Linked DNA regions of Homo sapiens. The protein of the gene in region 1 purifies or fractionates together with the protein of each later gene. This does not show direct contact. Each region holds a gene or a part of one and is shown on either strand. Other genes may lie near its edges. The genes, in order: PLCL2 and SLC35F5.

Evidence for each region.
Region 2: the proteins of PLCL2 (region 1) and SLC35F5 purify together in Homo sapiens (affinity purification with mass spectrometry, with the first as the bait; one large-scale study listed by BioGRID). This does not show direct contact.

Annotation. Positions count from the first base shown.
Region 1 is NC_000003.12:17,006,828-17,010,656, forward strand, and holds part of PLCL2 (inactive phospholipase C-like protein 2), read left to right. Parts: intron 1-2,846; coding exon 2,847-3,829. UniProt on the Homo sapiens protein: May play an role in the regulation of Ins(1,4,5)P3 around the endoplasmic reticulum.
Region 2 is NC_000002.12:113,718,518-113,722,346, forward strand, and holds part of SLC35F5 (solute carrier family 35 member F5), read right to left. Parts: intron 2,852-3,829; exon of another isoform or gene 2,773-2,851; intron 792-2,772; coding exon 637-791; intron 1-636.

The DNA.
Region 1 (3,829 bases):
TATGTGAGCATGTGTGTATGTTATTAACTTACTTTGCTATTAGGCCTTTTCCCTCTTAATAAAAAAGAAACCTGTTTATCTGAAATGTATCATTTATAACAAATTAGAAAGTGTAACAGAATATTAATCAGCCTGTAAAAATGAAAGAATAAAAGATTACAATGTTGGGAAAATACTATATATTTCTTAATGGATCAGTGGATAAACCACATCCATATATTTTTGTAATTGTTCTACTAGTGTCATCTTTGAGACACGATATATAAAGATTATAAAATTCCCTAACTGAGTCAGTATGTTGTCTTTATCAAAGGTAAATGCGTCTTTTAAAAACTAAAGACATCGGTCAGGCGTGGTGGCTCACACCTGTAATCCTAGCACTTTGGGAGGCTGACGCAGACGGATCACGAGGTCAGGAGATCGAGACCATCCTGGCTAACATGGTGAAACCCCGTCTCTACTGGGAAAAAAAAACTAAAGACGTCATTCTGAAAAATAGAAAATTATACATTTGTTTCATGTCCTTATGCATGGCTGATTACAAAACTAATTTCATGCTAACTCACTCAAATTGATGTAATACAATCTATGCTTTAGGGATTTGAAATGGCTTTAATATAATGTATCTTACAGATACAATTACCACAGTTTTTATGTATTTTGCACTTTATTGTTCTGAGGATATAATTGTAAAGAAATATTCTACCTTGTGGCTTTTATGTTTTGTCTTGGCACCCAGATCACAAAAGCTTCTATGGTTCATTTTGAAACTTTGAGGAAAATGATACCCATATGATTTAAAGTTTAAGTTTAATTACCTTCTGCAAATTGCTTTTGGAAGTATAGGTAGTTAGAAAGTAAAAGTGGTTTTAAATTTCAGAGATAGAGTATAGCATAATAGCTTTTTAAAATACAGATATTTTCTATCCAGAGCAGGAAAATTAGAATTGCCTTTGGATAATATTCAACAATGTTCTTTTCTTTGTCATGAAAGTGATATAATTCCAACTCCCATCCCTATTTCTTATTTATAAATACAATGAATACTGAAAATTTGTCATAGATTTTATACACATACTGAAAGGCAGTATCATCTTTTAGGTTTAAAATTGTGAAAGATCTTTTGAGGTAATTTGAGCACTCTTTTCAAATAATAAAGGTCTCCATACAAGGAAGGACTTAAATACACACACAGATGTGGATGTCAGCCCCTTAAGATGAGAACATGTTACCTTAAGCAGGAAAGTTGAACAGTGCCTTACTGGTGATGCTAACTTCTTTAGAAATAAGTGCTGCCTGAAGTTTTAAACTTAGTCCTTTTAATAATCTATTAATATTAAGGTACAAGGTGACATTGTTCTGAGCATTGGGGCATAGTAATAGGTTTTAATAAATCCAACTCTACGATTTTAGGAGCTCCAACAGCTATAATCTAGCCCTTCATCTCAGACTTACATGTCTATCTGATGTATACTGATGACTGATCTAGTATGAGACTTTGGAGAGAGGAATTTCTGCTGGAATTCCCATTTAACAGTTACTTAATTGGTTTCTACTTAGCTGTTTCTCATCATTTGGTGCAAATAGTTTCCAGAAATAGTCTAGACGTCTTAGCCCAAGTAGTCAGGAAATGGTTTTTAAACTTTAGTGTACATCCTCCGTCACATGGAGTGCTACCTTGATGTAAATTCCTGGGCACCAGCCCCAGGGAGCTGGTTCCATGGGCCTAGCAATCTGCATTGTAACCAGGTAACCCAGATGATTCTGAGGCAGGTGGTCTGGTGACAAGCCTTTGAGAAGTATTGGTGTAGGAGGCGTACGTAGAAACAGGGCCTGTTTCATGGTGTATGACCTGTACAGTTGCACAGGCTTCACACTGACTCAGAAGAGCCCTGGGCTTCACTTAGCTCCTCTGTCACCTTGAAATTCTTAATAATTTTTAATCAGGGAATCCTGCATTTTCACTTTTCTCTGGGCTCTGAAAATTGTTTCTTTCTTTCTATTTTTTGAGACAGGATCTTGTTCTGTTGTCCACATTGGAGTGCTGTGGCAAGATCATAGCTCATTGCAGCCTCAATCTCCTGGGCTCAAGCAATCTTCCCATCTCAGCCCCCTGAATAGCTAGGACTACAGGCATGAGCCACCATATCTGGCTAATTAATTTTTTTTTTTTTTGAGACGGATTCTCACTCTGTTGCCCAGGCTGGAGTGCAGTGACACAATCTCAGCTCACTGCAACCTTTGCCTCACGGATTCAAACGATTCTCCTGCCTCAGCCTCCCGAGTAGGTGGGATTACAGGCACCCGCCACCATGCCCGGCTAATTTTTGTATTTTTAGTAGAGACAGGGTTTCAGCACGTTGGCCAGGCTGGTCTCAAACTTCTGACCTTGGGTGATCTGCCCCTTCTTGGCCTCCCAAAGTGCTGGGATTACAGGCATGAGCCACCATGCCCGGCCAAAAAAAATTTTTTTTTGTAGAGATGGGATCTCACTGTATTACCCAGGTTGGTCTCAAACTCCTCACCTCAAGCAATCCTCCTGCCTTAGCCTCCCAAAGTGCTGAGTTTATAGGTGTGAACCTCCGTCCCTGGCCTGAAATTGTTCTTCTTGATAAATATGAATTGCAATTATTCAATAATGATTTCATACCTGTTGGTATTAGGCTGTCAACTGCAAGGCCAATTCTGAGCTTTAGAGATGAATGAGTATCATTCATCACAGGAATCTAGAATAGGAAATCTTAATAGTATGATTTTTTTCTAGGAAATTAAATTTCTATTCATAATCTTGAACATAGAAACCTATATTTATGTTATTCTAATATACGGTCTTTTTTTCCTCTCAGGATGGTACAAAACAGAAGAGGGAACGGAAAAAGACAGTCTCATTCAGCAGCATGCCAACAGAGAAGAAGATCAGCAGTGCAAGTGATTGTATTAATTCAATGGTTGAGGGTTCAGAACTCAAAAAGGTTCGCTCCAACTCTAGAATTTATCATAGGTACTTTTTACTGGATGCTGACATGCAGAGCCTAAGGTGGGAGCCATCTAAGAAGGATTCTGAGAAAGCCAAGATTGACATTAAATCCATCAAGGAAGTGAGAACAGGAAAAAACACAGACATATTCCGCAGCAATGGCATTTCTGACCAGATATCTGAAGATTGTGCGTTTTCCGTCATATATGGAGAGAATTATGAGTCACTGGATTTGGTTGCCAACTCCGCAGATGTTGCAAACATCTGGGTTACAGGACTGCGGTACCTAATTTCTTATGGAAAACATACACTTGATATGTTAGAAAGTAGCCAAGATAACATGAGGACTTCTTGGGTTTCACAAATGTTTAGTGAAATTGATGTAGATAACCTTGGACATATAACTCTGTGTAATGCTGTGCAATGTATCAGAAACCTCAATCCTGGTTTAAAAACGAGCAAAATTGAGCTTAAGTTCAAAGAATTGCATAAATCAAAGGACAAAGCTGGTACCGAGGTCACAAAGGAAGAATTTATTGAGGTTTTTCATGAGCTTTGTACTAGACCTGAAATTTATTTCCTTTTAGTTCAGTTTTCAAGCAATAAAGAATTCCTTGATACCAAGGACCTTATGATGTTTCTTGAGGCAGAACAGGGTGTGGCACATATAAATGAGGAAATAAGCCTTGAAATTATTCACAAATATGAACCATCCAAAGAGGGTCAGGAAAAGGGCTGGCTCTCCATAGACGGGTTCACTAATTACCTTATGTCACCTGACTGTTATATATTCGATCCAGAACATAAGAAGGTCTGTCAGGATATGAAGCAACCTCTGTCTCATTACTTTAT
Region 2 (3,829 bases), on another chromosome or scaffold:
GGTATTACCTGTGAATCATATTTTTTTTAAAAAAATGTAGTTACTAGGCAGGCAAATCACTTGTGGTTGGGAATTCAAGGCCAGCCTGGCCAACACGGTGAAACCTGCCTCTACTGAAAATACAAAAATTAGCTGGGCATGGTGGTGCATGCCTGTAATCCCAGCTACTCAGGAGGCTGAGGCAGGAGAATCACTTGAACCCAGGAGGCAGAGGTTGCAGTGAGCTGAGATCGTGCCATTGCACTCCAGGCTGGGCTACAGAGCAAGACTCTGTCAAGAAAGAGAAAAAAAGAAGAAAGAGAAGAAAGAAAGAGGGAAAGAAAAGGAAAGAAAAAGAGAGAGAAAGAAAAAGAAAGAAAGAAAGAAAGAAAGAAAGAAAGAAAGAAAGAAAGAAAGAAAGAAAGAAAGAAAAAGAAAGGAAGAAAGGAAGGAAGGAAGAAAGAAAGAAAGAAAGGAGAAAGAATCTTATTACCCAAAAGATCTAAACCAATTATTTTATTTTCATCTGCCGTAACATATAAGTTATCATCTTTCAATAATTCCTCACAAAATCTCTAAAAGCTAGGCCAGCATGATGCAATTCTCAGTTATCTAGCAAACACTATTTTTAAAAATGTGTATTGGGACTAAACTTACCTCTGAATTCGATGTTTTCTGCATATAAAAGCAAATATTCTTCTGATTCCCACCATCACAGGATCCCAATTATTATAATGGCATAGGAGAGTTACAATAAAAAATGAAAAAAATACAGGGATAGCTCCTGCAAAAAATAACCAAGAAAACTGCACCTAAAAATAAAAGATAGAGGAAAAAACACACCCACAATTATCATTAAGGCAATTTTCCCCTTCAATGTAAGTTTTCTATTTGTGAAAACTAGCAGGAATAAGAACAATGGGAAGACAAAATTAAACACTGACAATGTATTAAGTGTATTATTATTAAATAAGAATTCAAGACTTCAACTTACTATTCCATGCACCTAAATTACCAACAACAATAGTTCTTGCTTGGAAAATAGGCTAAAGGAAAGCCAAGAAAGCATACTTTCCATTTATAGGCATTGTACACTTAGAGTAGAGATATACAGTAGGAAACTTTGCTCCTGCACACCATGTTGCTCATTTCTTCTTCACTGTTTGCTGCCTAGTCTCAAGTGGGTCTCTCTCCCTCAGTTTCTGAAGTCATCTTCAAAAAATGTATATTTTCGTAAAAAGTTACAGTTGTAGTATGCTGTGTATGCTACAGTCCTTATGACAGTACCAAAAACAAATTAAGTGCAAATTTGACACTCAAAACTCGCTTATCTAGTAATAAATGAAAAAAGCTCAAAATGAAATAATGACCAAATAAAATAAAGAAAAAAATATAGAAATATTTTTACTAAGGAATGTTAGCCAGAGAAGACAAGCAACAAGACAAGCCTCATCAGTGATGTCAACAAGTCTGATCCTCCAATCCATCATTTATCAGAGTTGTCAAGAAAATAAAAAATATCTGTAAGTAGGGTGGAGGTATTAAAATCAAAAAGAAAAAAAAATAAGAAAAACAAATATATAAATAAAAAGAAAATAAAAAATAATGAGATGCCATCCAAAACAAAACTCATTCTTCCCTTTCACTAGTTCACTTTTACCATCTAGACTCAGCTAAAGATCAGAAACGATTGTCAAAGAAGCCTACACTGATCAACCACTGAGACTTAAGTGTAACACACAGGAGGTTTGCTTTAAAAATAATGATGAAAATAGTAACTTCTATCTATAAAATAGGAAAGGAAAACTGTGTTTGCCCTCTTTGAGAATTAAAAAAAAAAAAAAAAGGGCATGGAATCATAGGTAAGACTCCCTCTGGTGGAAAACATATACTATTCCATTTCATAGCACCATTAGTCAGAGTAAACGAGTTTTGTGAGCATAATGTCTTTTATGAGGGAACTCACAATGCATAACACAAGAATAATAACTGACAATTTTTAACATGCATGCCCTATTTCTATGGTATTCATATACAATGACTGAGTCAGCCTAAGAAGACCCCGGAAAGAATAGTCATTAAACTGAAAAGCCTTCATTTAGTTATGAAATTACCAATATATTTTAACATATTCCTGGAATATTTGCCAGAATGACTAATAATCAGGAAAAACCATGCTGCATTTAAATTATCCAAGATCAGAAAAGGTATTAAGAAGTTATAAATAATGCGATTAAAAATGTAGATATAGTTGATAGAATTATTTCATGAATATTCAACTAAAAACCTTATTTCATAACTGAATCAAAGCAAACTTAATAAAGATAGATAAAGCCCTAGAAGACTTTAGAAGGCAAGTTCACTTTCCACAATGTAGCTGTTTATATGTTGTCTCATAATAAAAAACTTCTAATTTGATTTCCAACAAGCTAAGACAAAAGAAACGAAGCCATTTATTACAACAAAGAAAATTACCTATGTAAACAAAATTTTTTTTTCTAATTCCTAAATATATCTGAATATCAAATAGAATATGATCAAGGATGCTTTCTATTATATAAAATGATTATAAATAGATTTAAATAACCAATTTGTTTCAAGCACAATGTTAATAAATGCTAACATTTCAGAAGCTATATATAAATACAGTTAGCTAATTAAACCTAAAAACCCTATAAAAGTAGATTTCTCTTATGTTTGTGTTACAGTTCTGGACACACACTGCTGCTTTTTCCAGATGGAATCTCCCTAACCTCAATCCTGACACCAACACACAGCCTGCTCCTTTAACTGACTGCCCAGTTCTAGATATGAAGACAATCAAGAACACCAAATCTTTTCTTGATTGTCTTCATATCCAGAACTGGGCAATCAGTTAAAGTTTGGTTATGTTTTTATAATTAATTGCATGTGCATACATTTCCCCGTTTTGTCTTTACCCTAAAATACTTTATTAAACAAATTATAACCATTATTGTTTGTAATGATAATTATGAAATGACTAATCATTTAATACAATTAGGTCCCCTGTGACTATTTTCTTAAAAATTCCTGAACATTAAGCTGCAATTTTTTTCAATCTACGAAAGCTTTTGTTTTTAAAATATCAGTACAATAAAGATGATTTACACAGTAGTCTACCAAAATCCTCTAACAAGTAGCACCTTCCCAGTTTCACAACCAGTTTGGTTCATATTCAGGATTATGACCTGAAGATGAAGAAGGGCCTAGATATTACTTAAATCTATAAAAGAATGATGTGTAATAATGTGCAATGTTAGTGTTATATGGAATATCCACATTCTTTGAAAATGCAAGTTATGTAAGATAATTAATTCTCAATTAAGGAAAGAATCTCAGTTCTTTAACCATGACAAATAAGAATTTACTGACCATAAAACAAAGTTAAATATCAGTAAAGAATTATTTTATAAATAAAGAGGATATAGAGCACTAAGCATATTTTGCTTTTATCTTTTTTTTTTTTTTTTTTTTTGAGATGGAGTCTTGTTCTGTTGCCCAGGCTGGAGCGCAGTGGCATGATCTTGGCTCACTGCAACCTCCGCCTCCCGGGTTCAAGTGATTCTCCTGCCTCAGCCTCCCAAGTAGCTGGGATTACAGGTGCACGCCATCACACCCAGCTAATTTTTGTATTTTTAGTAGAGACGGGGTTTCACCATGCTGGCCAGGCTGGTCTCGAACTCCTAACCTCAAGTGATCTGCCTGCCTCGGCCTCCCAAGTGCTGGGATTACAGGCGTGAGCCACTGTGCCTGGCTAAGACCTAGAGAAAAATAGGTTTAAAATTTTGATTATTGCTTGTACACATTATAAGCCTTTGGGCCTTGAAGT